Linked DNA regions of Homo sapiens. The protein of the gene in region 1 purifies or fractionates together with the protein of each later gene. This does not show direct contact. Each region holds a gene or a part of one and is shown in the gene's direction. Other genes may lie near its edges. The genes, in order: F12, PEX6, TEP1, CDC42EP1, NEU3, MTR and ZMYM4.

What was found.
Region 2: the proteins of F12 (region 1) and PEX6 purify together in Homo sapiens (affinity purification with mass spectrometry; one large-scale study listed by BioGRID and IntAct). This does not show direct contact.
Region 3: the proteins of F12 (region 1) and TEP1 purify together in Homo sapiens (affinity purification with mass spectrometry; one large-scale study listed by BioGRID and IntAct). This does not show direct contact.
Region 4: the proteins of F12 (region 1) and CDC42EP1 purify together in Homo sapiens (affinity purification with mass spectrometry; one large-scale study listed by BioGRID and IntAct). This does not show direct contact.
Region 5: the proteins of F12 (region 1) and NEU3 purify together in Homo sapiens (affinity purification with mass spectrometry; one large-scale study listed by BioGRID and IntAct). This does not show direct contact.
Region 6: the proteins of F12 (region 1) and MTR purify together in Homo sapiens (affinity purification with mass spectrometry; one large-scale study listed by BioGRID and IntAct). This does not show direct contact.
Region 7: the proteins of F12 (region 1) and ZMYM4 purify together in Homo sapiens (affinity purification with mass spectrometry; one large-scale study listed by BioGRID and IntAct). This does not show direct contact.

Annotation. Positions count from the first base shown.
Region 1 is NC_000005.10:177,404,103-177,406,564, reverse strand, and holds part of F12 (coagulation factor XII preproprotein), read left to right. Parts: intron 1-503; coding exon 504-603; intron 604-759; coding exon 760-830; intron 831-836; exon of another isoform or gene 837-1,005; intron 1,006-1,131; coding exon 1,132-1,242; intron 1,243-1,379; coding exon 1,380-1,511; intron 1,512-1,650; coding exon 1,651-1,755; intron 1,756-1,900; coding exon 1,901-2,066; intron 2,067-2,151; coding exon 2,152-2,369; intron 2,370-2,462. UniProt on the Homo sapiens protein: Factor XII is a serum glycoprotein that participates in the initiation of blood coagulation, fibrinolysis, and the generation of bradykinin and angiotensin.
Region 2 is NC_000006.12:42,966,274-42,969,181, reverse strand, and holds part of PEX6 (peroxisome biogenesis factor 6), read left to right. Parts: intron 1-196; coding exon 197-308; intron 309-683; coding exon 684-892; intron 893-1,618; coding exon 1,619-1,814; intron 1,815-2,323; coding exon 2,324-2,400; intron 2,401-2,524; coding exon 2,525-2,657; exon of another isoform or gene 2,658-2,678; intron 2,679-2,734; coding exon 2,735-2,908. UniProt on the Homo sapiens protein: Component of the PEX1-PEX6 AAA ATPase complex, a protein dislocase complex that mediates the ATP-dependent extraction of the PEX5 receptor from peroxisomal membranes, an essential step for PEX5 recycling.
Region 3 is NC_000014.9:20,386,002-20,389,501, reverse strand, and holds part of TEP1 (telomerase protein component 1), read left to right. Parts: intron 1-204; coding exon 205-264; intron 265-1,438; coding exon 1,439-1,597; intron 1,598-2,878; coding exon 2,879-3,055; intron 3,056-3,306; coding exon 3,307-3,427; intron 3,428-3,500. UniProt on the Homo sapiens protein: Component of the telomerase ribonucleoprotein complex that is essential for the replication of chromosome termini. Also a component of the ribonucleoprotein vaults particle, a multi-subunit structure involved in nucleo-cytoplasmic transport.
Region 4 is NC_000022.11:37,563,480-37,566,692, forward strand, and holds part of CDC42EP1 (cdc42 effector protein 1), read left to right. Parts: intron 1-2,592; 5' UTR 2,593-2,870; coding exon 2,871-3,213. UniProt on the Homo sapiens protein: Probably involved in the organization of the actin cytoskeleton. Induced membrane extensions in fibroblasts.
Region 5 is NC_000011.10:74,995,433-74,998,932, forward strand, and holds part of NEU3 (sialidase-3), read left to right. Parts: intron 1-1,424; exon of another isoform or gene 1,425-1,445; intron 1,446-3,500. UniProt on the Homo sapiens protein: Exo-alpha-sialidase that catalyzes the hydrolytic cleavage of the terminal sialic acid (N-acetylneuraminic acid, Neu5Ac) of a glycan moiety in the catabolism of glycolipids, glycoproteins and oligosacharides.
Region 6 is NC_000001.11:236,899,792-236,903,291, forward strand, and holds part of MTR (methionine synthase), read left to right. Parts: 3' UTR 1-3,500. UniProt on the Homo sapiens protein: Catalyzes the transfer of a methyl group from methylcob(III)alamin (MeCbl) to homocysteine, yielding enzyme-bound cob(I)alamin and methionine in the cytosol. MeCbl is an active form of cobalamin (vitamin B12) used as a cofactor for methionine biosynthesis.
Region 7 is NC_000001.11:35,387,209-35,390,708, forward strand, and holds part of ZMYM4 (zinc finger MYM-type protein 4), read left to right. Parts: coding exon 1-70; intron 71-245; coding exon 246-396; intron 397-1,701; coding exon 1,702-1,874; intron 1,875-2,739; coding exon 2,740-2,890; intron 2,891-3,500. UniProt on the Homo sapiens protein: Plays a role in the regulation of cell morphology and cytoskeletal organization.

The DNA of each region.
Region 1 (2,462 bases):
ACAGCTAGCAGGTTGTGGAGTCAGGAGTCTACTCCAGCTATCTGACTCCTGAACCCAAGTTTTTTTTTTTTTCTTTAAGATGGAGTCTCACTCTGTCACCCAGGCTGGAGTGCAGTGGCGCGATCTCGGCTCACTGCAAGCTCCGCCTCCCGGGTTCACACCATTCTCCTGCCTCGGCCTCCCGAGTAGCTGGGACTACAGGCACCTGCCACCACCCCCAGCTAATTTTTTTGTATTTTTAGTAGAGAGGGGGTTTCACTGTATTAGCCAGGATGGTCTTGATCTCCTGACCTCGTGATCTGCCCGCCTTGGCCTCCCAAAGTGCTGGGATTACAGGCTTGAGCCACCGCGCCCGGCCCTGAACCCAACTTTTAGAGCAGAAAGTGTTTTCAATGCACAGCGACCTTTTTGAGGGTCTGTCCTTTTCCTGACCAGACCCTGAGGGACAGTGCCTGAGCAGTTGAGTACAGGGGAAGTCCTCAGAGAGTGTGTTGTCCCTGCAGTTCTCACTGTCACCGGGGAGCCCTGCCACTTCCCCTTCCAGTACCACCGGCAGCTGTACCACAAATGTACCCACAAGGGCCGGCCAGGCCCTCAGCCCTGGTAAGACTACGCAGAGGAGTTGGAGCAGGGGCCTGGGAGACATGTACCCTGCCTGTCCTTCTGTCCAAGGAACTCTGCTTGGAGAGAGGGGACTGTGATAGGGCAGGGTGGGCCAGGCCCCTGGGTAGAGCAGGGAAGCCTTGTCTCTTTCTACAGGTGTGCTACCACCCCCAACTTTGATCAGGACCAGCGATGGGGATACTGTTTGGAGCCCAAGAAAGTGAAAGGTGCTACACACAGCCTCTGGGGTGGCCTGGGGCTCTCTCCTCCCGCCTCATTACTCTCCTGGTATCACCAGACCCCACACACCTGGGATTCTGGACCCAGCCCCTTCTCTCCCTCCACAATACCCTTTGGAAGTCCAGAGGGAGAGTTCTGGGAAGGAGTGGTCCCATTTTGCAGGTGGGTAAACCAAGCTTGGAAACTTGGAGTAGCAAGGTCACAAGGCAAGTAGGTTCAAGAAGGGCCTTGGCCCCCAGCTGTGTGACTCAGCTCCCTGCTCTTCCTTCCACCATGTCCATCTCTCAGACCACTGCAGCAAACACAGCCCCTGCCAGAAAGGAGGGACCTGTGTGAACATGCCAAGCGGCCCCCACTGTCTCTGTCCACAACACCTCACTGGAAACCACTGCCAGAAAGGTGAGGAGATGTGGAGGACCTGGGCGGGGTGCTGGGGGACAGGGGCAACCCTGGGCCTACAGAATAGGTTGCTGGATACTCGGAGACTTGGCATGGTCCTAGACTCTCCTGAGACCACTATCCCTCTTTGTCCCCAGAGAAGTGCTTTGAGCCTCAGCTTCTCCGGTTTTTCCACAAGAATGAGATATGGTATAGAACTGAGCAAGCAGCTGTGGCCAGATGCCAGTGCAAGGGTCCTGATGCCCACTGCCAGCGGCTGGCCAGCCAGGGTGAGCAGATGGTTGGGAACGGGCCAGGGAGGAGCGTCAGGAAGACAGGCTGGCAGGAGGCCGGGTGGTGTGCCAGGAAGGAGAGCTCTCTGGGGGGGTCTTTAGGCCCAGGGGTGGCTCACTGCGTTCCCTCCCCAAGCCTGCCGCACCAACCCGTGCCTCCATGGGGGTCGCTGCCTAGAGGTGGAGGGCCACCGCCTGTGCCACTGCCCGGTGGGCTACACCGGAGCCTTCTGCGACGTGGGTGAGTGAGGGTCTGGGGCAAGCAGAAGGCCAGCCCCCAGGTGGGACGGGCTTGCCAGGAAGGAGGAGGGAGAGTGCGGAAAGCAGATGAGAGGGAGGCAGGAGAGCCCAGCCTTGGCTGCCCAGGGAGCCCCCTTTCTCCTCAGACACCAAGGCAAGCTGCTATGATGGCCGCGGGCTCAGCTACCGCGGCCTGGCCAGGACCACGCTCTCGGGTGCGCCCTGTCAGCCGTGGGCCTCGGAGGCCACCTACCGGAACGTGACTGCCGAGCAAGCGCGGAACTGGGGACTGGGCGGCCACGCCTTCTGCCGGTGCGCCGCGTGGGGCTGGGTGACCCCTCCGCCCCAGGGCTCCGGGCTCCCGGCGCTCTAACGGCGCCCCGTCGTGTGGCTACAGGAACCCGGACAACGACATCCGCCCGTGGTGCTTCGTGCTGAACCGCGACCGGCTGAGCTGGGAGTACTGCGACCTGGCACAGTGCCAGACCCCAACCCAGGCGGCGCCTCCGACCCCGGTGTCCCCTAGGCTTCATGTCCCACTCATGCCCGCGCAGCCGGCACCGCCGAAGCCTCAGCCCACGACCCGGACCCCGCCTCAGTCCCAGACCCCGGGAGGTTAGGAAGTGGGGGGGGGAAGGAGGAGCCGAGAGGGCGCCGGGCGAGCTAGATTCCGGCCAGCCGGCCGCGGGCTCTCCGTCCTCAGCCCCT
Region 2 (2,908 bases), on another chromosome or scaffold:
ATGCCCCGGCCAGAGCACCGCAGGTGGTGTGGGAGACACAGCCTCACTACATGGGGACAGCCCTGTCCTGGGGTCAGGGAGGCTCAAGGAGAGAAAAACAGGGTATCTGCTTTCTAGATCTAAGGGATCTTGTGTTACTGGGGACTCTAATGTTTGGGCAAAATGAAGGAGACGAATGTCTGTTCTCTGGTTGCAGGGGTGCCCTGCTGACAGGAACTAGCAGTGTCCTTCTACGGGGCCCCCCAGGCTGTGGGAAGACCACAGTAGTTGCTGCTGCCTGTAGTCACCTTGGGCTCCACTTACTGAAGGTGAGGGTCTCTGGAGAGTAGAACCCCAGCTACTTCCCCTCCCCAGCTCATGTTCTCCCTCTCTGCTGCTTCCTCTCCCCTCCCTCCTCTGTCTACTCACAGGCCCTAGCACTTCAGCCCAGTGGGTCAGGCATATTCCCATGATGCTGAGCTATGGAGAGGTACTTTCAAGGAGGAGGGAGTTGCAAGATATTGGTGGACAGTCCAGGGAATGGGATAGGGTAAAAAAGAGGTAGGACTTGGCCAGGGTACCTTCCCTGTCCCTGCCCTCCAGAGAAAAAGATGGCCCACATCTTCCACCTCCTCCTCCCCTGATTCTCCTGCCCTTGTCATGCTTTCCCCTTGCTCACAGACCCATTGGGATCCCCTCCCCAGGTGCCCTGCTCCAGCCTCTGTGCAGAAAGTAGTGGGGCTGTGGAGACAAAACTGCAGGCCATCTTCTCCCGGGCCCGCCGTTGCCGGCCTGCAGTCCTGTTGCTCACAGCTGTGGACCTTCTGGGCCGGGACCGTGATGGGCTGGGTGAGGATGCCCGTGTGATGGCTGTGCTGCGTCACCTCCTCCTCAATGAGGACCCCCTCAACAGGTACTTATACAGAGCTGGGCCTCTCAAAGCTGGGGGGGCCGGCTGGGCGCGGTGGCTCACACTTATAATCCCAGCACATTGGGAGGCCGAGGCAGGTGGATCACCTGCCTTGATCAGGAGTTCAAGACCAGCCTGGCCAACATGGTGAAACCCTGTCTCTACTAAAAATACAAAAATTAGCTGGGTGTGGTGGCGGGTGCCTGTAATCCAGGCTACTTGGGAGGCTGAGGCAGGAGAATCACTTGAGCCCAGGAGGCGGAGGTTGCAGTGAGCCAAAATCATACCATTGCACTCCAGCCTGGGCGACAAGAGCAAGACTCAGTCTTAAAAAAAAAAAAAAAAGGGGGAGCGGGGGGGCCAGCCCTCCTACTTTTCAGCCTTTCAGTCCTCCCTTCTCTCACCCCTCAGTGGCTTCTCAGTCATCTCCCATCCATTTGGCTGCCCTCTAGACAGCCCTGAGCTCCGTGTCTTTAGAGGGATCCAGAGGGAGGAGTCTGTGGTCTAGCATTTCTTGGGGAACACTCGGTTAAAGAAAAAGCCTCTGCCCTCAATGTGATGGGGGAAACACAGTTCCCCCATCTAGGAACTGGGGTAGATGCTCATCTCCCTACCCCATCCTAGCACCCACCTCACTTCCCTGCCCTTCTGTGCCGACTTTGGGACAAGGCAGTCCACAGGAGCTGCCAGCCATGTTCTCACCCTCAGTGCCCACTCCTCTGTCTGCAGCTGCCCTCCCCTCATGGTTGTGGCCACCACAAGCCGGGCCCAGGACCTGCCTGCTGATGTGCAGACAGCATTTCCTCATGAGCTCGAGGTGCCTGCTCTGTCAGAGGGGCAGCGGCTCAGCATCCTGCGGGCCCTCACTGCCCACCTTCCCCTGGGCCAGGAGGTGAACTTGGCACAGCTAGCACGGCGGTGTGCAGTGAGTATCAAGGGAGAGTACTGGCCCTCCCTAGGAGGTCCCTGGCTTTTGTTACAAGAACTCAGTCCTGTTGCCTTGTGAGTGAGAGTAGAAAACCCAGCGCGGGCGCCGTGGCTCACGCCTGTAATCCTAGCACTTTGGGAGGCCGAGGTGGGCGGATCACCTGAGGTTGGGAGTTTGAGACCAGCCTGGCCAACATGGAGAAACCCCGTCTCTACTAAAAATACAAAGTTAGCCAGGTGTGGTGGCACATGCCTGTAATCCCAGCTACTTGGGAGGCTGAGGTGAGATAATCGCTTGAACCCGGGTGGAAGTTGCGGTGAGCCGAGATCGCGCCATTGCACTCCAGCCTGAGCAACAAGAGCAAAACTCCGTCTCAAAAAAAAAAAAAAAAAAAAAACAACAAACCTAAGGCATCAACAGAGGGCCTCTGCTCTAGCTGGGGGACGGTCCCTGAAGGTTCCTGCCTACTGTGCCCTGCTCATGTGTCCTTTCCTGTGGTTCCCTAGGGCTTTGTGGTAGGGGATCTCTATGCCCTTCTGACCCACAGCAGCCGGGCAGCCTGCACCAGGATCAAGAACTCAGGGTAAGAGGACGTGGGCACCGGAAAGGCGGAAAGAGGAAATGGATGTAGATGGGTGGGTGGTGAGGAAGGGAGAAGGGAATGGGACGCTGATGGTGAGGAGGCTTCCCTGTGTTCCTCTTTGCAGTTTGGCAGGTGGCTTGACTGAGGAGGATGAGGGGGAGCTGTGTGCTGCCGGCTTTCCTCTCCTGGCTGAGGACTTTGGGCAGGCACTGGAGCAACTGCAGACAGCTCACTCCCAGGCCGTTGGAGCCCCCAAGGTGGAGACCAAGTCCTTGGAGGTGGGACAGGAGCCCCTCCAAGAGCATATCCCAACCACGCACTTTCCATCTCCTAGATCCCCTCAGTGTCCTGGCATGATGTGGGTGGGCTGCAGGAGGTGAAGAAGGAGATCCTGGAGACCATTCAGCTCCCCCTGGAGCACCCTGAGCTACTGAGCCTGGGCCTGAGACGCTCAGGCCTTCTGCTCCATGGGCCCCCTGGCACCGGCAAGACCCTTCTGGCCAAGGCA
Region 3 (3,500 bases), on another chromosome or scaffold:
TCTGCCTTCTTACCTCTGTTGCACTTCAGGTGGATACTTTAGCCTAACTCTGTACCCCTCTGTGAGAGTCCACCCTAGCCCTAGCCTACCACATAACCCTATTAAAGGTGCAGAAGTGGGGTTTTCATCTTGGGATGTTAGTGGGCAGTGACTGTGTTCCAGGTATTGTTTGTGATGGTTAATGACTGCTTCTTCCTTTGCCAGGTCAACAGATTTGAATCCCAATGATGTGACACTCTCAGGCTGTACTGATGCGATACTGAAGTGAGTACAGAATGGATACTGAAGGGTTGGATACTTTGTTGGAAAGTTTTTAGGAGATTATCTCTACTCCAGTCACTTTTTTTTTTTTTTAAGACAGAATCTCACTCTGTCGCTCAGGCTGGAGTGCAGTGGCACAATCTTGGCTCACTGCAACCTCCATCTCCTGGGTTCAAGCGATCCTCCTGCCTCCGCCTCCCGAGTACCTGGGACTACAGACATGCACCACCATGCCCGGCTAATTTTTGTATTTTTAGTAGAGACGGGGTTTCACCATGTTGGTCAGGCTGGTCTTGAACTCCTGACCTTGTGATCCACCCACCTCAGCCTCCCAAAGTGCTGGGATTACAGGCGTGAGCCACCGCACCCGGCTCCAGTTACTTCTTTTTTAAAGTGAGGTAGTTCACTCCTCTTTTACAGCCATCCAGGCATAGCAGCAACACAGTGTCACAGGGACCCAGGCACTTTCTCTCTTATTGCTCCATGATCCTCAAATACTCAGCTTCTACCTCATAATTCAATATGTCTGCCTGAGCTCCAGCCATCTTGGTATTCAGCCAAGTTTGTATTATATCCAGTAGGAAAGAAGAAAGGGGACATGGGAGACTTCACTGTCAAGAGTTGGCCATGTCACTGTGGCTTCTGTTCAATTCTTGATCCAGAGAAAATTATGTCTATTTAAGCTAAAATTACAGAAATCTTTTCACGTTTTTTTTATCTGTCTCTCCATCCTTTGCCTTCTTATTTACTTGTTTTCTCCCCTGGCTTTTCCTCTGGATACCATCCATTTCCCTCAACTCCTATGAGAAAGCCTCAGGCACATTCCTCCTTCTCCAGGGGGCCTTTATGGCTGGCACAGAGCTGCTCAAGCCCAGACTGGGATGGCTTTAATCTTTACACCTTTCCCTACCCCGTTGCCCCGGCCCAACAGCAAGTTTGTGATTACCACGCACAGCAGGAGGGGCTAGAGCTGGGCTTCTCTTTTCCTTCATTCCTGTGGTTCTGCATCCTCATTTATTTTAAGTCTGCATAAACTGCTTATGGTCCTCTTCTTAAGGAGCTTGACTTAACTGGTCACCAAACCTGGACATATCTTTTTCCCCCTGCCCTTTTCGGAAGACCTCACTGATTTCGACCTGTGGTATTCTACTCTCATTTATCTTGTTATTTATGTCAGGTTCATTGCAGAGCATGGGGCCTCCCATCTTCTGGAACATGTGGGCCAAATGGACAAAATATTCAAGATTCCACCACCCCCAGGAAAGACAGGGGTCCAGTCTCTCCGGCCACTGGAAGAGGACACTCCAAGCCCCTTGGCTCCTGTTTCCCAGCAAGGGTCAGTCTGTGTTTCTATGCCTTTGTGAATTGGGAGGGGCTGCAGTCAAACCTTGGGAAACCCTGGGGCTGAAATTCTAGCTGGTGAGGTGCCGCTTGTTCTCTTCATGAAGGCATGCTTCCTCTTTCTCAGGCGGAGGTTTCTCTACCACAGGGAGTTGTCAGATTGTGAGCAAGCCCTTCCTTTCTCTACTGAGGAAAGGAAGTCAGAATGCAAAGATGACGGCAGACATCATGGCCGTATGGCCAGGGCGTAGGCAGAGGGCTTAGGAGCACAGGTTCTGGCTTTTTCATTGTGGCTTTGCCAAATAGTAGTTTGAATCTGGCTTAGTTGCTTAATTTCTTTTTTTTTTTGAGACGGAGTCTCGCTGTGTCGCCCAGTCTGGGGTACAGTGGCGTGATCTCGGCTCACTGCAAGCTCTGCCTCCTGGGTTCACACCATTCTCCTGCCTCAGCCTCCCGAGTAGCTGGGACTACAGGCGCCTGCCACCATGCCCGGCTAATTTTTTTTTTGGATTTTTAGTAGAGACAGGGTTTCGTCATGTTGGACAGGCTAACCTTGAACTCCCGACCTCAGGTGATCTGCCCGCCTCGACCTCCCAAAGTGCTGGGATTACAGGCGTGAGCCATCGCGCCTGACCAGTTGCTTAATTTCTTAAAGCTATAGTTTCTTGCTGAGCGCCGTGGCTCACGCCTGTAATCCCAGCACTTTGGGAGGTCGAGGCGGGCAGATCACCTGAGGTCGGGAGTTCAAGGTTAGCCTGTCCAACATGACTAAACCCTGTCTCTACTAAAAATACAAAATTAGCCAGGTGTGGTGGCTCATGCCTGTAATCCCAGTTACTGGGGAGGCTGAGGTGGGAGAATTGCTTGAACCCTGGAGGCAGAGGTTGCAGTGAGCCGAGATCGCGCCATTTTACTCTAGCCTGGGCAACAAGAGCAAAACTCTGTCTCAAAAAAAAAAAAAGTTATCGTTTCTTGATTGCTAAAATGGAGATAATGATAGTGCTTACCTCACAGTGCTGTCATGAACAAGCAGTAAGTATATAAAAATGATTACCAGAAAAAAGAGAGGTGTACAAGAAATAGCAAGTGGGCATTAAATTCCAGGGCCCTGCAGTTGAGACCACTAGCAGGTGCTTCTCTGAAGGCCTGCTGGGCACCCATCTGCTGTCTGTCGTACCTGGCTTGTGCTCAGTGCTAAAGGGTGATCACAGCAGTGTCTATGGATGGGGGGTGGGAATCATCCCTAGACTGAGCCCAGCTCTCTGCTTATCCCCAGATGGCGCAGCATCCGGCTTTTCATTTCATCCACTTTCCGAGACATGCATGGGGAGCGGGACCTGCTGCTGAGGTCTGTGCTGCCAGCACTGCAGGCCCGAGCGGCCCCTCACCGTATCAGCCTTCACGGAATCGACCTCCGCTGGGGCGTCACTGAGGAGGAGACCCGTAGGAACAGGTGTGGGGGCTGCAGAGAAGAGGGGCTGGGTCGGGGATGAGGGGCTTGAGTGGTGGACCTGAGGTGGGCATGGTTGGGGCTGCAAGAATGGATGAGGGTGAAGGCGGGAGTCGCTCCTTGGATACTAACAAGAGCAGCCTACCTTTTCTTTACTCAGTTGCGAGTCAGGGCCCCGTCTCCCTGTTTGTGCCTATGTTCCCTGATACCATGCCCCCAGTGACTCCCACACGTCCCTATCATCATGCCTACAGACAACTGGAAGTGTGCCTTGGGGAGGTGGAGAACGCACAGCTGTTTGTGGGGATTCTGGGCTCCCGTTATGGATACATTCCCCCCAGCTACAACCTTCCTGACCATCCACACTTCCACTGGGTAAGGCAGACAGGTTTGGAGGAGGGCTGGGGAGGAAGCAAAGATTGGGGCAGAGGCTGGGAGAAGCCACACT
Region 4 (3,213 bases), on another chromosome or scaffold:
AGATGATTCAGAAGTTCCCCCCCACGAGGGGGAGGAGTTAGGGTTGGGGGAGGATCAGATGGTGGGAAGGGAAGAGAATGTAGTCAGAAAACAAAGCAAGCTTTGTCCTATTGGCTTCTTTGTTCTTATCTTGTTATTTAACCTATTTTGAATTTCAAATAACATTAGAAGGGCAGTATTGAGATTTCTATGCTTGGAGGTGGCAGCAATGGTTTTAAAAAAGGAAGAAGGCTGAGCCGCAGACATAGGTGTTCTTAAGGATCATTATTGACTTTTATCAGCTGAGGTCCCAGGTCTGTGTAGGTAAGTGACTTGCCCAAGGTCACATTGTGAGGACACAGAGCCCAGCCTGCCCTCCCACTCTCAGAAGGGGCCAGGGTGATGTTTTGGCATGCAGGTTATCATGGAGATCTGTGATTCAGCTGGCATTGATTTGGCACTTGTTAAGTGCAGAGCCCAAGCTAGATGCCCAAGGGAGAAAGGCAGGAAAATCCAGGCGGCCTCCCCACCCTCCAAGTGCATTGCCGATCTCGGGAGGCGAGACTGGGCTCCACAAGCCAGTCAAGGGCTTATGTGAGTCAGAGGCTCTGAGTTCAAGTCTCAACTAGCTCTGTGGATCTGACCTCTAGCCAGCTTTGCCCTCAGTGGGCCACAGGAAAAGCATAGGATCACAGGTGCGCTCTAGCCTGGACTTTGTATGACACTAGAAGGAAAGGGGTCAGAACAAGAGATGCTTAGAGAAGCTGGAGCAGGGGAGGATGTGTGTGTGTGTATGGTGGGGGTGGGGAATCAGGAAGGAGAGATGCACAAGAAATAGCTTTTGGCACCAGCTGAGCTTTTTCCAAAGCTTGCTCCCTGACAGCAAGGCTCCTACGTCAGTTTGACAAACTGTGATAAAGTCTTTTCCTGCGGGCCTTCTCAGAGACTTGAATATGCTCACGCATGGAGGAGGCAGCTGGAAAAAGCCACTTTTGACCACAGGATCCTTATTCCAGGAAGCTCCTTGAAGGTGGATGGTTCAGAGGAACCTCTGCTCTGGCTGTTTACCCAGCTTCACAAAGCTTTGGTGAGGTGTCTGCTCCCTCCTGGCTTCGCTGCGTGGCAGAGATTTTAATGCACAGAGAAGGGAGGTGACTTACTCAGTTACTCAGCAGGAGGCAGTGTAGCCTGGGGCTCCAGGGCTCTGGGATGTGGGGCCTGTTTCACCATTTCTTACTACGTAGCCTCAGGCAAGTTACGTCACTTTGTGCCTCAGTTTCCCCTCTCTAATCTCATGCTGCCCTCAGGAGTAATGTTTTTGTTGTTGTTGTTGTTTGTGAGACGGAGTCTCGCTCTGTCGCACAGGCTGGAGTGCAGTGGCGCAATCTCGGCTCACTGCAACCTCTGCCTCCCGGGTTCAAGCAATTCTCCTGCCTCAGGCTCCTGAGTAGCTGGGATTACAGGCGCCCGCCACTACGCCCAGCTAATTTTTTGTATTTCTGGTAGAGACGGGGTTTCACCATGTTGGCCAGGCTGGTCTCTAATTCCTGACCTCGTGATCCACCCGCCTTGGCCTCCCAAAGTGCTGGGAATACAGGCGTGAGCCACCGCGCCCAGCCCCTCAGGAGTATTGTATGGGTTTAAACGATGAGGCGGGTGAGGTCTTGGCACTTAGTAAGTGCTTCATAAGTGGGCCCTGCAGAATAAGTGCTTTCTTTTTTTTTTCCTTTTTTTTTTTTTTTTTTTTGAGACAAGGTCTTGCTCTGTCTCCCAGACTGGAGTGCAGTGACACAATCATGGCTCATTGCAGCCTTGACCTCCTAGGCTCAAAGGATCCTCCCTTCTTAGCCTCCTGAGTAGCTAGGACCACAGGCATACACCACCACACCCAACTAATTTTTTTAAAATTTTTTTGTAAAAACCAGGTCTCATTATGTTGCTCAGACTTAGAATGAGTGAATGAGTGCTTCTATTTTTTCCTGATACATGGCTTAAGTGTATAGCTCAATGAATTATTTGTCCCCTATTCAGTCAGTACCTGCTCAGAGGCTGCCATCATTCTGATTGCTAATAGCATCAATTGGTTTTGCCTGTTACTGAACTTCCTTGTTTTTTTTTTTTTTTTTTTTTTTTTTTTTGAGACGGAATGTTGCTCTTGTTGCCGAGGCTGGAGTGCCGTGATGTGATCTTGGCTCACTGCAACCTCTGCCTCCAAGGTTCAAGTGATTCTCCTGCCACAGCTTCCTGGGTAGCTGGGATTACAGGTGCGCACCACCACGTCCGGCTAAGTTTTGTATTTTTAGTAGAGACGGGGTTTCTCTATGTTGGCCAGGCTGGTCTCGAACTCCTGACCTCAGGTGAGCCACCCACCTCAACCTCCCGAAGTGCTGGGATTACCAGCATGAGCCACCGCACCCGGCTGTGTTCTTGAACTTTCTATACACAGACTCACTTGGGTCCCCGTGTGCCTAGCTTCTGCCCCGCGTCAGTTGGAGGCCTCCATCCGTGTAGTTGGGTGTGATCATCTATCCTCTTCAGCTGCTAATGTTTGGACCCCGGATTTCCTCCTCTGTCGCGGGCCTGCCGTCACCGCCCATTCTGTCTTCCTTCCAGGTCTCCACCTCTGGGCAGGAGAGTTGCCGACCACCTCGGGGGTGCTTTCTCTGCGCTTGAACATCTATAGCTGCTTCTGAGGGGCTGGGAGCCGGGCCCCTGGGAGAGACGAGCCATGAACCCCCCACAGCCTCTGCATTTGGGGACCTCACCTTAGGAGAGTGCCATTTACAGCTTCCGCCAGGGCAAAGGAGCTGAGCAGCCATCCCAAGCCCAGCCCACCTCCCTCCCCCGGCCCCTGGTAGGCATGGACTAGCAGCTGTGAGCAGCCAGAGCTGATGCCCGGCCCCCAGGGGGGCAGAGGCGCCGCCACCATGAGCCTGGGCAAGCTCTCGCCTGTGGGCTGGGTGTCCAGTTCACAGGGAAAGAGGCGGCTGACTGCAGACATGATCAGCCACCCACTCGGGGACTTCCGCCACACCATGCATGTGGGCCGTGGCGGGGATGTCTTCGGGGACACGTCCTTCCTCAGCAACCACGGTGGCAGCTCCGGGAGCACCCATCGCTCACCCCGCAGCTTCCTGGCCAAGAAGCTGCAGCTGGTGCGGAGGGTGGGGGCGCCCCCCCGGAGGATGGCATCTCCCCCTGCACCCTCCCCGGCTCCACCGGCCATCTCCCCCA
Region 5 (3,500 bases), on another chromosome or scaffold:
GTTACTGCTCTTTGGCCTGGAAGCTACAGGGTTATTTCAGATCCCAAATAGGCATACGTCGGAGATATTGTGGATTTGGTTCCAGACCACCACACTAAAGTGACTATCACAATAAAACAAGACACATAAATTTTTTGGTTTCCCAGTGCATATAAAAGTTATGTTTACACTATACTGTAGTCTGTTAAGTGTGTAGTAGCATTATGTCTAACAAAAAGTACACACCTTAAAATACTGCTGAAAAGTGCTAATGATTATTTGAACCTTTGGCTAGTCAATCTTTTTGCTGGAGTGGGTCTTGCCCTGATGTTGGTGACTGCTGACTTATCAGGGTGGTGGTTGCTGAAGATTTAGTGTATTATTATTATTATTATTATTATTATTATTTTTCTAGAAGCATTTCTTACTTACATAGATAATTTCTTAAAATAAGACAATGGGCTGGGCACAGTGGCTCATGCCTGTAATCCCAGAACTTTGCGAGGCCAAAGTGGGAGGATTGCTTGAGCTCAGGAGTTCAAGACTGGCCTGGGCAACATAGCAAGACCTTATCTCTAATAAAAATAAAAAACATTGGGTGGGTTTAGTGGCACACATCTGTAGTGGCAGCTACTCGGGAGGCTGAGGGGGAGGATTGCTTGAGCCCAGAAGTTCAAGGCTCCAGTGAGCTGCGATTGTGCCACTGCCCTCCCGCCTGGGGGACAGAGCAATACCCTGTCTACCCCCAACAAGAAATAAGACAACAATGAAGTTTGCTGAAACAGTTGACACTTCCTTTCACAAAAGATTTCTCTGTAGCATGCAATGCTACAGAATTTGATAGCATTTTTCCCATAGTAGAACTTATAAATGAATCCTCTCAAACCCTGCTGCTGCTTTATCAACTAAGTTGATGTAATATTTTAAATCCTTTGTTGCCATTTTGACAATGTTTACAGCATCTTCACCAGAAGTAGATCCCATCTCAAAAAACTACTTTATTTGCTCATCTATAAGAAGCAACTCATTTATTCAAGTTTTATCATGAGATTGCAGCAATTTAGTCACATCTTCAGGCTCCACTTCTAATTCTCTTGCTATTTCCACCATATCTGCAGTTACTTCCTCTACTGAAGTTTTGAACCCCTCAAAATCATGAGTATGGGAATCAACTTCTCAATGTCTCTTAATGTTAATATTATGACCTCCCATGAATCATGAATGTTCTGAATGGCATCTAGACTAGTGGAATTTTTCCAGAAGGTTTTCAGTTTACTTTGACCAGATTCATCAGAGTAATCACTATCTATGGCAACTATAGTCTTATGAAATATTTCTTAAATAATGAAACTTGGAAGTTGAAATGACTCCTTGATCCGTGGGCTACAGAATGGATGTTGTATTAGTGGCCGTGAAAACAACATTAATCTCCTCATACATCTCCATCAGAGCTCCTGGATGACAAGGTACGTTGTCAATGACCAGTAATATTTTGAAAGGAATCTTTTTTCCTGAGCAGTAGGTCTCAACAGGGGGCTGTAAACAGAAGTGCTTCATCCAGGCTTTGTTTTTAGAGCACTGGCAGAGTAGATTTAGGATAATTCTTAAGAGCCCTAGGATTTTCTGAGTGATAAATGAGCATTGACCTCAACTTAAAGTCACCAGCCCGTCCTTTGAAGGTTTGAAGCCAGACATTGACTTCTCTCTAGCCATGAAAGTCCTAGATGGCATCTTTCAGTAGAAGGCTGTTTTGTCTACAGGGAAAATCTGTTGTTTGGTGTAGCCACCTTTGTCAGTTACCTTAACTAGATCTTCTGGATAACTGGCTATAGCTTCTCCCATCAGCACTTGCTGCTTCACCTTGCCCTTTTAAGTTACGGAGACAGCTTCTTGCCTTAAACCTCATGAACCATCCTCTGCTACTTTCCAACTTTTCTTGTGCAGCTTCCATACCTCTCTCAGCCTTTGTAGAACTGAAGAGAGTTAGAACTTTGCCCTGGTTTAGGCTTTGTCTTAAGGGAATGCTATGGCTGGTCTGATCTTTTATCCAGACCTCTAAAGCTTTCTCCCTATCAGCAATAAGGCTGTTTTGCTTTCTTATCATTCCTGTATTCACTGGAGTAGCACTTTTAATTTCCTTCAAGAACTTTTCAGCCTGGTGTGGTGGCTCACGCCTGTAATCCCAGCACTTTGGGAGGCCAAGGTAGGCGGATCACGAGGTCAGGAGTTCGAGACCAGCCTGACCAACATGCTGAAATCCCGTCTCTACTAAAAATACCAAAAAAAAAAAAAAAAAAAAAAATTAGCCGGGCATGGTGGTGCATGCCTGTAATCCCAGCTACTCAGGAGGCTGAGGCAGGAGAATCGCTTGAACACAGGAGGCGGGGGTTGCAGTGAGCAGAGATCGAGCCACTGCACTCCAGCCTGGGTGACAAAGGGAGACTCTGTTTCAAAAAAAAAAAAGAACTTTTTCTTTGCATTTACAGCTTGGCTGTTTGGCACAAGAGGCCTAGCTATCGGCCTGTCTTGGCTTTCAACATGCCTTCCTCGTAAGTTTAATCATTTCTAGCTTTGATTTAAAGTGAAAGATGGGGGACTCTTCCTTTCACTTGAACACTTAGAGGCCATTGTAGGGTTACTAATTGGCCTAATTTCAATGTTGTTGCATTTCAGGGAATAGGCTGAAGGAAAGGAAGAGAGATGAGGGAACAGTTGGTTGGTGAAGCAGTCAGGACACATATAGCATTTATCAAGTTCACCATGTAATATGGGCACAGTTGTCATACTCCAAAACAATTACAGTAATAACATCAAAGATCACTGATGAAAGATCACCATAACAGATTTAATAATAATGACAATGTTTGAGATATTGTGAGAATTAACCGAAACATGACAAAGACATGAAGTGAGCACATGCTCAGTTCAGGGTTGCCACAAACCTTCAGTTTTGTGGCAATATCTGACAAATGCAGTAGAGCAAAGTGCAATAAAATCACATAGGCCTATATTTCTTATTGTTGCTTTCCTCTCTCCCAGGGCTAGCTTAAGTGAGACAAATGAGACAATGGTTTTGAGAGTCTTTTGTAAAAAAAATATATAGTTGTGTCATCTCTCTATATCTACATAGTAGGCACTTTAATACTCCTAACCTACCCTGCTTTTTTACCTACAGATGTCTCAAATCTGACCATTAAATCTTCATATCCACAGCAGATAACCTTCTTCTGCTGTTAAAGTACACAGTGCAAATGCTATTCTGCTGAACATGGGCCTTGCCATCAATCCCTGTCTTTGCTTTTGATAACATTGGCTCACATTTCTCTTGGTGAAGTTTTTTACTTTGTGGGATTTTCAGTTCCTGCTCTTTCACCTTATCTTCTCATGAGTCTTTCTCATGGCCTCCCAGGACCAGACTTCTGCATGTATAACTAGCCTCCACAGAGGCCCAGCCCTACAGCCCAGTAGTACTTGGGATTCTAGCTCTTTCCTTTCTTCTAGGACAAGCATTGCCTGTGGTC
Region 6 (3,500 bases), on another chromosome or scaffold:
TAGTGAAGACTACACAAGAGGAAATAGGGCTTTTAAATAAATAGATGTTCTGTAGCATTGGTCAGGGAAATATGAATTAGGACCACAATGAGATTCCATTTTATATCCATAAGATTTGCAAAGGTTGGGTCTGACAGTACCAGTTGTTAGATCTGTAGGGACTTGTACAACATTGTGGATGTGTAAACAGGCACCACTGCTTTAAAAAACAATTATCCCTTACAGACTTGAACATTTGCAGACGTTATGATCTTGCTTCCAACTCCCACCTGTATGTCCAGCAAACTCTTGCATGTGGCCACTAGGAGGAATGTGTAAGAATGTTCATAGTTACATATTTATAATAGTTAATAACTGGAAAAAGTGAAATGTATGTCTGTCTACAGGAAAATAGGTGAATAATTAGATATATATATTCATTCTACGGGATATTATTCAGTAGTGGAAATGAGTGAACTACAGCTATACCTCACAATAAGAATGAATCTCAGAAAATATTAAGGAAAAAAGCAAGTTTGAAGAGACCACATGGGGCGTACTATTTTTATTGAGCCCAAAAACAAGCAAAACCAAAGAATATGTAGTCTAAGCATACGTATACAATAAAACTATGCTATTAAAAAAAAAGAAGGTAACTGATAAACCAAAATTGAGCATAGTAATTACCCACAGAAGGAGGAAGTGGAAGGGACAGGAGCACATAGGTAGATGCCAAGTTATGCAGCTGTTCTGGTTCCTCCTGGTAGGCTTACAAGTGTTTACTATATGCTATTAATACATTATACTTTATAACTAATAGATAACAGTTTTTTACATATTAAATATGTTCTACTTAAATATATTATAAAAAATAAAGGCAAAGTGGAATGATAACCTAAAATCTGGTATGGTGATTTTGTAGGTAATGTTTGTATATGTCAAATACAGTTTTTAAGGAAAGGAAGAACATCTTAGGGTAAACAGCAGCTAGAAAGGTGAGGGGCAGGAGAGTGGTGCATCCTTGCTGCTGCCAGCAGTGCCCAGATACCAGGCTTTGGGGAATGAGTGGATGGCTGGACCATTTGCTAAGACAGAGGCCAGGGGATGGGAGAAATGATGAGTTTTGGAAAGATTCGATGTGACTAGACTGAATATAGGCAGTTGGATACTAGACTTTGGAATTTAAAAAGAATGTCTGGAGTTAGAATTGAGAGACTTGAACGTGGAGATGGAGGTCAGGCTGCAGTGCGATGGGATCATCTATGGAGCATATGAGGAGAAGAGAATCTGGAGGAGGAGGAGGGGGAGCCAGCAGGGGAGCAGCTGTGGGTTGGAGGAAGCCAGGAGGGAGAGTGCAATGCCGAGAAAGCAATGAAGAGCGTTTCGAAGCATGCCAGCAGAACCCAATGCTGCAAAGAGGCCTGGGAATGGGATTGCTGAGGGCCCTTCTCACAGTGAGCCCCTCAAGAGCAGCGTCAGGGGATTGTGGGGACTGTTGGCACACAGCTGGCTTTGCTAGGTTGAAGACAATGGGAGGTGTGGAAGACTTGTTGACTCATTTAAAGAAGATTGGAGGGAAAGGTAGGATTGAGAGTGTTTCAGACAGAAAAAGGATTATATGCTGAGGGTAAAGCACAAGTACAGAGGGTTGCAGATAGTGCAGAAGTCTTTAAAAACAATTATTTTAACCCAACTTCCAGGGAGACTGAATTTCTTCTGCCAGTCAGTAACACCATCAACCTGGGAGTTGCCCCTGACCCCTCCAGTCTTAGCTCCTGCTCCTGTAACAAAATACCACAAACTGGTTAGCTTATAGAGAACAGATGTTTATTTCTTACAGTTCAGGAGTCTGGAAGTCCAAGATCATGGTGCCATCATGGCCGAGTTCTGGTGAGGGCCCTCTTCTGGGATGCAGCGGCCAGCTTCTCATGTTCTCACAGTGGGTGGAGGGTAAGCTTGCTCTCTGGCCTCCTCTTAAAAAGGCACTAATCCCATTCATGAGGGCTCCACCTTCATGACCTAATTACCTCCCAAAGATGCCATCTCCAAACACCATCATTCTGGGGATTCCATTTCAACATGATTTGGGGGATACATCAGACCATAACACTTTTCTTTTTCTCAACCTTCACATCCAGTTGGTTCTCAAGCCCTGGCGATTTTACGCGCTAGATAGGTCTTAAGTTCATCTCTACGCCTGCCCTGGTTAAGGTTCTCATCATTTCTCCTCTGGATTCATCTGCAACACAGGCTGCCGGGTTGGTTCCCACCTCCTAGAGCTGGAAGAGTGGGCTCTCTGATTCTTTACACCCCCGCCTCAATCCTCCTGCTGCCTGAATAACCATCTCCCCGTGACCTAGGATATATCCCAGCCCCTTAGAGGCATGCAAAGCCTTCCATGTCTGACCCTGCCTCATGTCTTGGAAGCCCTAGACTGCTGCTGTACCCTGAAGGAGGTACCTGCTCACATTGGCCCCTCTGTCTGGAATAACCCCACCCCGGTTCCACCCAAGTCAGGAAAGCTTCCCAACCCCTCCCTCCCACCACCCCAAAGCTAAGTGAAGTGACCCCTCTTCTTGCCTCTGTAACACCGCCATGCACATTTCATACAGCCCTTGCTGAAACTTCATCTAGTTCTCTGTTAGACTTAACATTCCCTAAGGGCAGGTTTGGAACCTTACTCATCTTTATATGGCGTCTAAAATAGTGCTTGCTTTATGATAGGTGCTCAGTAAAGGTTGTCTTGAATTGAGCAGATCCTCTAGGGACAGGAGTTGGATGGAGAGCAGACTGTAAAGCCTCATGAGGGCAGGGGCCCTGCCTCTTCCTGAGCTCAGGATACCCAGAGCCTAGCTCAGTGCCTGCCATGAAATTGTTCACTCCATCAAGCCTTGTTAAATGAGTTCGGGGCGGGGGGAGCATGATGGTTTTCTCTCTCTCAGAAAGAAAGCGCTGTATCAAAGCCCTAGCACCCTCTCTACACCCACCTTCAGTATTTCATATTAGATGCGGCCCAAGTGATACTTTCTTTACCGTCCCGTGAAGACAGCATATTGGCAGCCCTGCAAAAACAAAACAAAACAAAACCCTCAGTTCATGGCATACTTGCTATAAATCAGCTATGTGTATTGTCAAATTGTAGAACTGAAAGTATATTCTGATTCGGTGTGTGTATAAGGAAATATACACCAGTATATGCATTAAAACGTCAAGAAGAGCTGGGCACAGTGTCACATGCCTGTAAACCCAGCTATTCAGGAGGCTGAGGTGGGAGGATCGGTTGAGGCCAGGAGTTTGAGGCTGCAGTGAGCTATGATTGCACAGCTGCACTCCAGCCTGTGCTGAGACCTCATCTCTTAAAAAATAAAAAATAAAAAGTCTAAGAGGATACACAGAAATTTTTAAGTGGTTACCTCCACGGAATGGGATTAGGGGATCAGAGGTGAGGGAACTCATGGTTTGGCTATTTCTCGTTCTTTCTGCACTGTTTCAAATTTTTACAAGTGTATGTTATTGTACTT
Region 7 (3,500 bases), on another chromosome or scaffold:
TGTTGTGAAACTCAAATGTCAACACTGTAACCGTCTTTTTGCCACAAAACCAGAACTTCTTGACTATAAGGTAAAGTATAGCATGTTCATGATAAGATTTTGAGTATACGTGGGTCTATTTGTAAAATTATTTTTAACTTTGCATCTCTCAAAATCATACCATTTGTTTTGAAAGTAAGGGAGATAAGGAGTTCCATAAGACAAACCAAATGTTTAATTAGTACTTAATGATTATTTCTTTGCAGGGCAAAATGTTTCAGTTCTGTGGCAAGAATTGTTCTGATGAATATAAGAAAATAAATAATGTAATGGCAATGTGTGAATATTGTAAAATTGAGAAAATTGTAAAGGAGACTGTTCGGTTCTCAGGTGCTGACAAGTCATTCTGTAGTGAAGGTAAAGACAGAAGATTATCTTACCTACTGAGCATGTTGGTTGTTTTAAAGCAGTTGATGATGATTTAAGCTTTCACTGTCTAAGTTAATCTGTTTTATTGTTTATGTATAACGTAAATGCCTTTTCGATTCATTTACACTTAGTTCATTCTTTTTTGATCTAGTTTTCTTATATTATGTAGCTGTTAAAATGAAGTGAAAGATTTGCAAAGTATAATGCAGAAGAAGATGATGTGAAAAACATTTAACATCCTTAGGTTCCCCATTATTAGGTTGATCGGGACCTCAAAGAGCTTCTAGTTCGTGTACTTATTTCTAAATGGGATGCCTTAAATTATGGTAACATTCTAAGTTTATACTTTTATTGTCTTAAACAGCCATTATATTTCTGAATATAAATGGCTTGAATATGCAAATTAATATGTGGAAGATTGTTTTCCTTAGATAACTCTTCTATATGTTTATAATGTTTTATTTTACTCTAAAGCTGTATTAGCCTTCTAGAGCAAGGGCTTTCAAACCTTTTGATAACACCAAAGAAGAAATACATTTACACTGTGACCCAGTATATTTTCACATACCTAAATAAAAGTTTTTTTTGTTTTTGTTTTTGTTTTTTGAGACAGAGTCTTGCTTTGTCACCCAGGCTGGAATGCCATGGAGCGATCTTGGCTCACTGCAACCTCTGCCTCCTGGGTTCAAGCGATTCTCCTGCCTCAACCTCCCGAGTAGCTGGGACTACAGGCACCCGCCACCACACCTGGCTAATTTTTGTATTTTTAGTAGAGACAGGGCTTCACCATGTTGGCCAGGCTGGTCTCCAACTCCTGACCTCAGGTGATCCACCCACTTTGGCCTCCCAGAGTGCTGGGATTACAGGTGTGAGCCACTACGCCCAGCCCCAAAAGTTTCATGAAATAAAATCGATGCAGTTTAATATTTTCTCTTCTGTGCTATCCTGTCTTATATCATTTAAAACAAAAACAAAAACAAAGCAAAACAAAAACTAGTATAGATACTCTAAAAAATCAAGATACTCTGTGAACTGGTCAGGACCCAAGTGTGAAAACTTTGTCCTAGACCACTTATTTTTCTTTTTTTTGTTTTTGTTTTTATTTGACATGGGGTCTTGCCATGTTGCCCAGGCTGGTCTCAAACTCCTGGGCTCAAGCACTCCTCCCGCCAGCCTCCCAAAGTGTTGGGATTACAGGTGTGAGCCACTGCACCGGGCCTGTCCTAGGCCATTTAAAGTTGCAGAAAACTAATACTTCTACCTAATGTTAATTTTATCTTTCCTGATTTTTAGGTTGCAAATTGCTTTATAAACATGACTTGGCAAAACGCTGGGGAAATCACTGTAAAATGTGCAGTTATTGTTTACAGACATCTCCCAAATTGGTACAGAATAATTTAGGAGGGAAAGTGGAAGAGTTCTGTTGTGAAGAATGCATGTCCAAATATACAGTTTTGTTCTATCAGGTAAATAGAATTCACATTCCTGGGTTTTTCATTCTAGGGCATAAATTATTCCCTTTTAAAATTTCATGTCACATAAAGGACAATTTAATTATTTAAAACTTTTAAGTATTAAATGTTTTATGCCTTCTAGCAATTAATATAAGATTTAGAAAGACTTTAATGTTATTGAAGTTTTCTTTTGTTTTTAATTTCCTGTAGGAGACATATCAGTCTTAAGACATTAAAATATTTAAACTTATAATTTTATTCACTTATTATTTAAATAAAGTGAATTTGTCTTCTGAAGTCTGAGGAAGATAGACCTTATTTTTATTTCACTTTGTTTTTTAATTGCTATAGAGTGAAGTCTGTATGTTACATGTGTTTTTTAAAAAAAATTAGTATAAAATCAGCTGGGCGCGGTGGCTCACGCCTGTAATCCCAGCACTTTGGGAGGCCGAGGCGGGTGGATCATGAGGTTAGGAGATCGAGACCATCCTGGCTAACATGGTGAAACCCCGTCTCTACTAAAAATACAAAAAAATTAGCTGGGTGTGGTGGCGGGCGCCTGTAGTCCCAGCTACCTGGGAGGCTGAGGCAGGAGAATTGCATGAACCCAGGAGGTGGAGCTTGCAGTGAGCTGAGATCACGCCACTGCACTCCAGCCTGGGCGATAGAGCAAGGCTCTGTCTCAAAAAAAAAAAAAAATATATATATATATGTGTGTGTGTGTGTGTGTGTGTGTGTATAATCATTGATAAAGACAAACTAATTTTTTGATCTAAATTCTAAGTTAATTTCGTCACTTGTTATGTGTGTCTTATTTTTATTTTGTCAGACCACAGATAATTTGTTTCTTACTCCTTGACTACCTTCTTCTTTTTAGATGGCCAAATGTGATGCTTGTAAGCGACAGGGTAAACTCAGTGAGTCCTTGAAATGGCGAGGGGAAATGAAACATTTCTGTAACCTGCTTTGTATCTTGATGTTCTGTAATCAGCAAAGTGTATGTGACCCGCCTTCACAAAATAATGCAGGTAAAATTAACCTTAGGTACTGAATGGAGTCTTTGGTCAATACTAGGAACTACTGTTCTTTTACAGATCAGGAACTGTGTAAACAGTTGTCATTAATTTCATGAAACCTCAGTTTCCTTGTATTCTGTATCAATAACATTTAGCTTTTTTTGTTGAACACCTTATTTCACTGTCGTCCGTGTGAAGAGACCACCAAACAGGCTTTGTGTGAGCAACAAGGCTGTTTATTTCACCTGGGTGCAGGCGGTCTGAGTCTGAAAAGAGTCAGTGAAGGGAGATGGGGTGGGGCCGTTTTATAAGATTTGGGTAGGTAAAGGAAAAAGGGGGGTTGTTCTCTGGCGAGCAGGAGTGGGGGTCACAAAGTGCTCAGTGGGGGAGCTTTTTGAGCCAGGATGAGCCAGGAAAAGGAATTTCACAAGGTAATGTCATCAGTTAAGGCAGGAACAGGCCATTTTCACTTCTTTTGTGTTGGAATGTCATCAGTTAAGGCAGGAACCGGCCATCTGGATGTGTACCTGCAGGTCAGAGGGGATATGATGGCTTAGCTTGGGCTCAGAGGCCTGACACCTTAGATTAAAGCTGAGTAAAAATGAGTTTTTGATTAAATAGA